Linked DNA regions of Homo sapiens: all the other regions are linked to region 2. Evidence: fine-mapped QTL for protein levels in blood plasma. A gene starts in region 2. Each other region holds a variant in brackets. All regions are shown on one strand. Distances are between the middles of the regions.

Region 1 (2,768 bases), 43 kb after region 2:
AATTTAATTTCTTGGAATCACCTTCTTTGAATTTCTAGTTATTTCATGGTTTCTAGTTAATTCAATGTGTAGAATGGTCACTTCATCAATTTCTTAGACTTTTATGAACTGCAGGCTATTTTTTAATAGTTTCAAATTAATATTAGGCTTTAAAAATATTACATTTTTGAAAATAGTAAATACTTTAGAGAAAATCTATTTTAAGTAAAATTTCCCAAATAAACAGTCTTTATGAAAGTTCCCATGAGTATTTGGGATATGATCAATGAATTTTATTATTTTGCCAAAAAATAACCACAAAGACCTCCACCACATTAAGTTGTATGTTCATTTTCAAAAGAGTTGTGACACTCAAAACTTTTAGTCCATTGGATTACTTGTACAGTTTCTCAGTGGAGGGAGGAGGTGACTTGGAGACAGTCAGCAGGACAGGGAGCCACAGTTGAATGACTGACTGGCAGGAACGCAGGGCTCTTATAGCACGGTGCAGCAGTTGACTCAGATAGGGTTGAATTAGAGTTTGTGTTCCACTAAACTTGTTTTAATTAAGAAAATTATGATTTCTTTTTGAAAGATTCTTAGTCAATAAAAATGTCTTAGATGGAAATTGGGGTCTGATGATCCCCTTATTTCCAGGGAAGCTTTATGATTCTTGAATCAGCAAAGTTGGTTTATTTATTGGATTGTAGAAAATCCAAAATCCTAACACTTATAGGTATAATTTGTTTAGGAAATGTGCACTCCGTGCTTGATTTAGAGTTGAGCACTTTATATGCATTCCCATTTATTCCTCACACAACCTTTAGGGCAGGTATTCTTATCCCCATCTCACAGATGAAGAGACTGAGGATCGGAGAATTCCCAAAATAACTTGGCCAACAAGTGGCAGAGCTGGCATTCAAACTCATGTCTCTTTAGATCCAATGTAGGAAAATACATACTTTTCTCCTATGTTGACCTGGCTTGAAACAGAATTTCCAAGGACATTTATTTCCAGTTAATGCACCTCTTTCTCTGCATTCTCCTTTCTCTTTCCCTTGTACTTCTCCTCCTTCTTCTTTTCCTTTGTTGTGTTTTAACTCGTACATGAGACTCTTACAACCTCAAGCTGCCTGGATCAAAGTGTGATTTTGAAATACTCTGCTCTTTCCTGAACCTTTGCTGTGGAGAACCCTAGCTTGGGAACAAGGTGGAGACCACCCCCAGAAGGTCACGTGCACCTGTGCCTTGATCCCAAGGGACTTTGGGAGTGGGAGGCTCTCTCCTATACTTCAGAAAGCCTGTGCCTGCACACAGCTCTCCCAGCAACCAAAGTGCTCAGCAAAAACACAGCTGTCCCAGCCCAGAGCCAGAGTCACAATGATCACCCCGCAAAGACCCAGCACATGTCCAGAGAAATTCTCCTTGAATATGCATCTTTATTGTTTTCCTATTACAAGAGTAATGGATGCTTTTTGCAAAAATTACATTTTGCAGAACTGTAAAACTTGAGACCACCCCGTAATTCTAATCTTCCCCTCCTCTGAAAGAGATAATCCCTGTTAACAATTTTAAAGAAATTCTAACTTGTTAATCAGTTCTTTAAATCAAGTGTTGTTTGTCTCCCCCCTCCTCTCTGTGCCTCTGATATAGAACA[T/C]TGTGTGGCTGGAGCTCTCAGGAGTGAGGAGGAGGCTGACCTTCCACCCTTTTCTCCTCACTTCTTTGTTGTGCACACTCCCGATGTACGTTTGAAAGACAGGCAGAGTAATTGAAAGGAGGAAAGAAAGTATCACTCACCCAAAATGTGAATGAGTTAATTAGTAAAAATCTAGATGGAAGTGATTCCTCCGAATCCTTTGTTGAGTAGTTTATTAAGTACAGGCAGCACTATCCTTCAAGTTGGTTTTCATTTAATTTTTGGCCAATAAGTACTGCTTAGTTGATTTCGTATACAAATATGGATGAAGAAATTAAAATATGTAAATTTTACAGAAAAAATGGGAATGTTGAACTAGGTGGGACTTGCATTTTAGCATCCAGGGTTTACAAATGAGGAAACTGAGGTTTCTTGCAAGCCTTTCTTCCTCTGCAGCATCCAGTCTGCATTTGTGGGCATGCCCAGCCTGCTGCCTGCATGGGTGCCCTTCTTGCTCTTAAGCCACTGTCTGTTTTTTGTTAATGATGAGTGTTCTATAGAAACCATCACAAAGACCGACAACAGGTGTTACCAACAGTGTGTAGTCCTTCAGCCGCTTCCTGTGGATAAGTAATACATATATATATATATATATATATAGTACCTGGCAGGCCCTGTAGTGTAGTGGTTATGAAGCCTGACTCTGGAATTAGACGATGTAGGTTGAAATCCTGGTTCTAACACTACTTCTGTCACCTAGCCCAAGGTACATAACTTCTCTGACGCTCTATCCCCCAATCTATGAAATGGGAAAAATGGCAGTGCTGCCCTGATTGGGAAGGAGTATGGATTATTGAGATAATGGTGTAAAGTTCTTGGTCTAGAGTAAGCACCCATAAATGTTGGTACTTACATGAATGTTTTTGTAAACAATGGAATCATACTTCTAATTCTGTATTAAAACTTATTTTTAAAATTGTCGTGAACACAGATCACATCTACATTCTTCTTTTTATAGTTGCATTATAATTATGTTACATGATATGCTATAGTTTACTGAGTTCTTGAACTTGTGGAAATGATTGTATGTGGGTCAGAGAGCCATTTGTTTTGCCCACTCTTGGAAAACAGTGTGTTCTGATGTTCAAATCTA
Region 2 (2,768 bases):
TGAGCCCTGTGCATTTTTGAGAAATGATGTATAAGTAGAAAAATTATACAAGAAACATGGAAAAATCAACAGGACTATTTAAATGTTATACAGAACTTATGAACAGTTCAAACTAAATATTTTGCTATTAAAATTATTCAAGAATCATAGAAATCTGGAAATAAACACTTCATAAATAACGTTTTCAAATATCGCGTCAGGAAAAATTAGACAAAACCAGTTAAGGAGGGAAGTTACATTGAAAAAGACTGAGTTCTACTATCCCCTAAGTTTTGCAAAAATATTTTTAACTTACTTTCTAAAAGTTAGTGAGTTTCCATTATAAAATAGAAAAATTGTCTTCATTCCATGAAAGAACTGTCTGAAAATCAGAAAAGCACCATATCCTGGATTTCAAGGAAGATGAAACTTCTTCTTATCTTCTATTTTACTAAATACTCAAAATAAAATAATCATATTGTATTGAATCTGACATTGTTAAGGAAAATAGCTTAAAATTTTTAAATAATGAGCAATATATTTAATTTTAAAATACGAAGAATTAGGCTAAGGTGGTAATTTTTTAGTGAGTTGAAAGTCCAAACTATGAGTTCGGAAGAAACAGCCCTAAAAGGCAAATAACATGGCTTTGGAATAATCACAGGGCAAATGCTTTGTTCTACATAATTCTTCTTTTGTGAATTTTAAAATGCTCAACAAGTATTAATGAAATATGTCTAAGAAGTAGATATTGCTTTAAAATCTAATTTCCAGAGTCCCGAACTAAGGCAAAGATTGAGATTAAGTCTCCGCCCAAAGTCTTAAGTGAGCCAGTGGAAGATGGCAGTTTATTCATGAATTGTTGGTTATCTGCTGCTTAACTACTTAACACAACCCGGTTTGATTGGTAATCAGATCCTAATAATGTATGTTTCAAAGAAAGGGCAGTTTCCTTAAAATCCTTAAAGACTTGTCACTTTGAAAACTGGAATCAAAATGTGAAAATGTTATCGGTCCATCTGGCAGTGTCCTTGGGTGTTTTTTAGAGTGGTCTCATAGTGCTATTTAACTATGCTGAATATTTGACACCCAGTCTCTGTAGGAAATTGTGATTTTTATCAGCGAAGAGGCAATTAAATGCTGTCATTTGGCACGTCCATCCATCAGGGATCTTATCACCCAAGAAGCATCCAGCAGCAGTTGCTGTCCTTTCCAGCTGGCAGACAGATAACAGAAACTGTCCTGTGTGAGGCACAATAGTCTAACATGATTAGAAATCAGCCAAACTCTGGCTTCTCTTGAGCTATACTCCCCCACAGGCTGAATTATAGCTCTCCTACCAGTCCCACGGCGCTGAATGATGTCATGGGATCTGCAGTTCAGCGAGATGAAAGGGATAAAGCAGAACCCGCTGGCACTAGGAAAAGCTTCCAACACACAGTCCACAACACAGCTTGGGAACCAAAAAAGCTACAGATCCAGCCACTCAGCCCAAGCATGGGAGAACTACCAGCATTGCCTCATTGCAAAAAAGAGGAGGAAAACAACGTGATCCATGTTTAACAAAAGAGTCTGTGGACTAGGAGGTGGGAGGGTAACTACCTGCTGAAAGTGAACTTTCTTTGATATCCATGCATATATATAAACTCAGCCCTGCCTTTGATGTTCAGCAACTGATTCACTGATCAGATTACAGGCATTTCATCTCCCTGCTCGTCTGCCTTTGATCTGCATGGTTAATTTTATTTTCCTGGATTTGAAGTTTCGTCTGGGCTTGTGCTGACATACATTTTTGGGAAGGTAGAAGCATTTGGCACAGAAGTGCTGCCAGGAGAAACTAAGTTGCTGAACGGGTAAGTACTGCAAAGAGCTCAGCATGTTGCAGGTACTCTGTTTTAAGCTTTGTTATAGCTTTCACTGCATTTTTCGCATGTGTTCTGAGAAAAGAATGGTTTTAATTAATTTTTTAGAAAGCATTTATACAGCTGAATACTACATGATGCTGAATGTGTGTATCAGAGTAACTATGGAACTTGATGTAATTTTTAGTAGTTTGTACAAGAGGGTTTGCAGTCTGTCATACAAATTTTACTTGGAAATGAGTTGTACAAACAGGACAAAACAGAACAGCGCTCACTTTAGCATGCAACTGGTACTTCAACCCCTGAGATCTGTGAGCTATAATTGCTCTAAGTATTTACAGGTTACCTTATTTAGTAAACAGTCAGTGCAACTTTGCTTGTTGAAAATGCTTTCTTTGTTTTCTTATATAAAAGAGTAAAATGTATCTCTGGCAATACTGTTTCTTTAGTTTATTTATTCTCTCACTTCCAAGATGTAAATCTATCAAATACACTTCCTTATGCAGTTTGTACACTCAAGGGAATCACTGAAAAACCATCAAGTATGATTAAAGACTTTTATGTGTAAAACTGAAGAATTTAAAAACAGTGAGGATAAAGTTGCACTAAGTTTGGCTAAAAATACTCCAGTGATTTTCTATAACCTTTGGAAATAGCATAAGCCTTATTTACAGAAACATTCACAAGGTTAATATTCCTAAATTAACATTTACTTTACATTTATAGTGACAGCTGTTTTAAGTCAAAATTTGCCAACTGTTTATGAAAACTATCTGAGTAATCAACAGTTATTATGTTACATAAAGTATCTTAGTCACATTTTCACTTTAGCTAATGCCCAACATGACAAAACCAAATTATATTGCTGTACCGAATTTGAAAGTTAACTGTTATTTTTTTGTCAGTTCATGATACACACACACTCAC
Region 3 (2,768 bases), 89 kb after region 2:
AGCGCAGTGGTGCGATCACAGCTCACTGCAGCTTCATAGGCTCAAGGGATCCTCTCAATTCAGCCTCCCAAAGTGCTGGGATTACAGGCATGAGCCACCGCACCTTGCCTCTCTTTTACGTTTTAAATGTGGTTCCTAGACAACCTGAAATGACATGTGAAGCACACATTATACCTCTACCTGGAGTAATCTTCAGTCGAGGGGAGGCTCCTGTGGTGAGCAGCACCTGCCGGGGAAGCAGAGTGAGGGCCCCTCAGCTCACTCAGGGCATCTGCTTGGGAAAGAGAAAATGTAACTGCCCCTCTGTGTAGATTCATGCCCCTTTTAAATCCATTTCTCTCATTATTTTGGGGTTAGTTAAGTAGGATATGCTGTTTAACTGCACTAGATATAGATCTCTGATTTAAATGAGTTTGTTTATCCTGGTACCCTCAGGATAGTTTTAAAATGGTAATTACTATCATCATCATTACAGTGGCTAATGATTCTACAGCACAGCCAGTCCCACACACTTTACATAACACATGAGCCAGTCACTATTATTACCTCCATTTGAACAGATGGCAACTTGAAATTCCAGTCAGTGTCTCAAGGTCACACAGGTAGAGGTTGACCCAGGCCATGGGGTTCAGAATCTGCCCTGAACCACAAAGCAGTACTGCCCTCTAAAATAAGATCTATTTCTTGACTTTCTTAGCACATGACTATGCCGGCCTTTCCATAGTGTAATAACAGTATTAGTCTTTTCTCCAAAACTTAGATGTTTTCCAGTAGTTTAACAGCTAAGGCATTCAGAGATGTTTACTGTCTCAAAAACTGGGGTCTACTGTAAGGTTCTGGATGATCCAACTCCTTGTTTTCCCCTAAAGTTGCCCCAAAAAGCATACATGCATTCAGTCTGCTTAAAAATATGGTGTAATTCCAATTAAGTACAAAACATTAGTTCCCTGCCACATGCCAAGTACTGGGCAACCAGAGGTAAAGATGACAGACCCCCAGCTCACAAAGAATTCTGCTCTGGTGGAGCTGAAGGCAGATTCTAGTAACACAATGTGTTGAGGATTGTGTGTCCGTAGCGCTCTGGGAACAGAGGAGAGGGACACCCTGCACATTGTGGGGTGCCGGGTAAAGGTGTCCCATTAAAGACATCTTCTGGGTGGAGGGGGTGCTTGAGCCATCTTTAAATATCTCATGCCAGTTTTCTCACAGCATGGGAAGGCCACTGGTAAGGGTGCCTGCCAGCTTCGCCATAAACACTGCATCTGCAGTTGTTCAGAGCATGCTGACCCCATTCCTGTGGTTTCAGGTGCCAGCAAGGTCAACCTCGTGAAGATCG[C/T]GTCCACGGCCTCCAGCCCACGGGACACGGCGCTGGCTGCCGTTATCTGCAGCGCTCTGGCCACCGTCCTGCTGGCCCTGCTCATCCTCTGTGTCATCTATTGTAAGAGACAGTTTATGGAGAAGAAACCCAGCTGTAAGTTTTGAGCTCATTACATTTCTTAGCATTTAGGGGAAGGGCATTTATTACTATTGTCGTGCAAGTGTTCCACAAGAGACTTGGCTGAGACAAGCACCAGTGAGTTGTGAAAGAACGCAGGGCACAAGAAACACAGGTGATCCCTGAACAGCAGAGGGCTAGGAGAGCAGTTAAGAATCCACACGTCAGTGTTGACTCCCCAAAAACTTAACTACTAATAGCCTATTGTTGACGGGAAGCCTTACTGATAAACAGTTGGTTAATACATCTTGTTTATTATATGTTTCTTTGTTTTTTTGTTTTTTTGGAGACAGAGTCTGGCTCTGTCACCCAGGCTGGAGGGCAGTGGCGTGACTTCAGCTCATGGCAACCTCTGCCTCCCGGATTCAAGTGATTCTCCTGCCTCAGCCTCCGGAGTAGCTGGGACTACAGGCGCCCGCCACCACGCCTGGATAATTTTTGTATTTTTAGTAGAAACGGGGTTTCACCATGTTGGCCAGGCTGGTCTCGAACTCCTGACCTCGTGATCCGCCTGCCTCGGCCTCCCAAAGTGCTGAGATGACAGATGTGAGCCACTGCACCGGCCTATTATATGTATTATGCCCTGTATTCTTACATTAAAGTAAGCTAGAGAAAAGAAAATGTTACTAAGAGAATCATAAGGGAGACAAAATAGATTTACTCTTCATTAAGTGGAAGCGGATCATTGTAAAGGCCTTCATCCTCATCATCTTCATGTTGAGTGGGCTGAGGAGGAGGAGGAGGAGGGTTGGCCTTGGTGTCTCAGCGTGGCAGAGGCTGAAGAAAATCTGTGTATAAGTGACCTGCGCAGTTCAAACCCGTGTTGCTTAAGGGTCATCTGTAGAATTCACTGAGGTTGCACAGCTTTGTAAGGAGACTTACAAGGCTGTGATGTCCCTGCGCCACTAGGCAAAAATAAAAATCATTCTCAGTAATGGCAACATTAGTACCCTACATTTTGAACTTTCTTAACAAATTATTTCATGTTTGTGCTTCCATGTAAGAAGAAGTCATCAAACATTGGAAGGATAGCTGATTTGTTCTTTAAAAATACAAAAGCTAGAATGGCACAGGTCCACTAGAGAGGAGACTGTGTTCCCTGACAGAGTTCTCACCCCTCATTTAGGGTCTCTGCGGTCACAGGACATTCAGTACAACGGCTCTGAGCTGTCGTGTTTTGACAGACCTCAGCTCCACGAATATGCCCACAGAGCCTGCTGCCAGTGCCGCCGTGACTCAGTGCAGACCTGCGGTAAGTTCAGCAGGGAAGTGC

Direction of the effects. Alleles are on the strand shown, and positions count from the first base shown. The strength of an association depends on the size of the effect and on how common the allele is.
For the plasma level of the protein whose gene starts at base 1,396 in region 2, T is the low allele of the variant in region 1 and C is the other (weak association).
For the plasma level of the protein whose gene starts at base 1,396 in region 2, allele C in region 3 goes with a lower level than allele T (moderate association).

Evidence for each region. PIP is the chance, under the fine-mapping model, that this variant and not a neighbour inherited with it causes the effect. The UK Biobank Pharma Proteomics Project read protein levels with antibody pairs (Olink). The fine-mapping took linkage between variants from a reference panel, not from the people measured, so its PIPs are less certain.
Region 1: its variant is fine-mapped to the plasma level of the TNFRSF19 protein (UK Biobank, PIP above 0.99).
Region 3: its variant is fine-mapped to the plasma level of the TNFRSF19 protein (UK Biobank, PIP above 0.99). The variant lies in the coding sequence of TNFRSF19. If it changes the protein, the assay may bind it differently, which can mimic a change of level.

The regions. Positions count from the first base shown.
Region 1 is chr13:23,612,495-23,615,262 of GRCh38, forward strand. All of the region lies in intron 3 of TNFRSF19 (TNF receptor superfamily member 19), which reads left to right. Among named protein-coding and RNA genes, the nearest start is that of TNFRSF19, 43 kb to the left of the region's middle. The variant T/C (reference allele first, on the strand shown) is at 1,637.
Region 2 is chr13:23,569,017-23,571,784 of GRCh38, forward strand. It overlaps TNFRSF19 (TNF receptor superfamily member 19), which reads left to right and starts at 1,396. Exons shown (of 10, transcript NM_148957.4): 1 at 1,396-1,832.
Region 3 is chr13:23,657,744-23,660,511 of GRCh38, forward strand. TNFRSF19 (TNF receptor superfamily member 19) reads left to right here. Exons shown (of 10, transcript NM_148957.4): 6 at 1,307-1,471; 7 at 2,622-2,747. Among named protein-coding and RNA genes, the nearest start is that of TNFRSF19, 89 kb to the left of the region's middle. The variant C/T (reference allele first, on the strand shown) is at 1,337.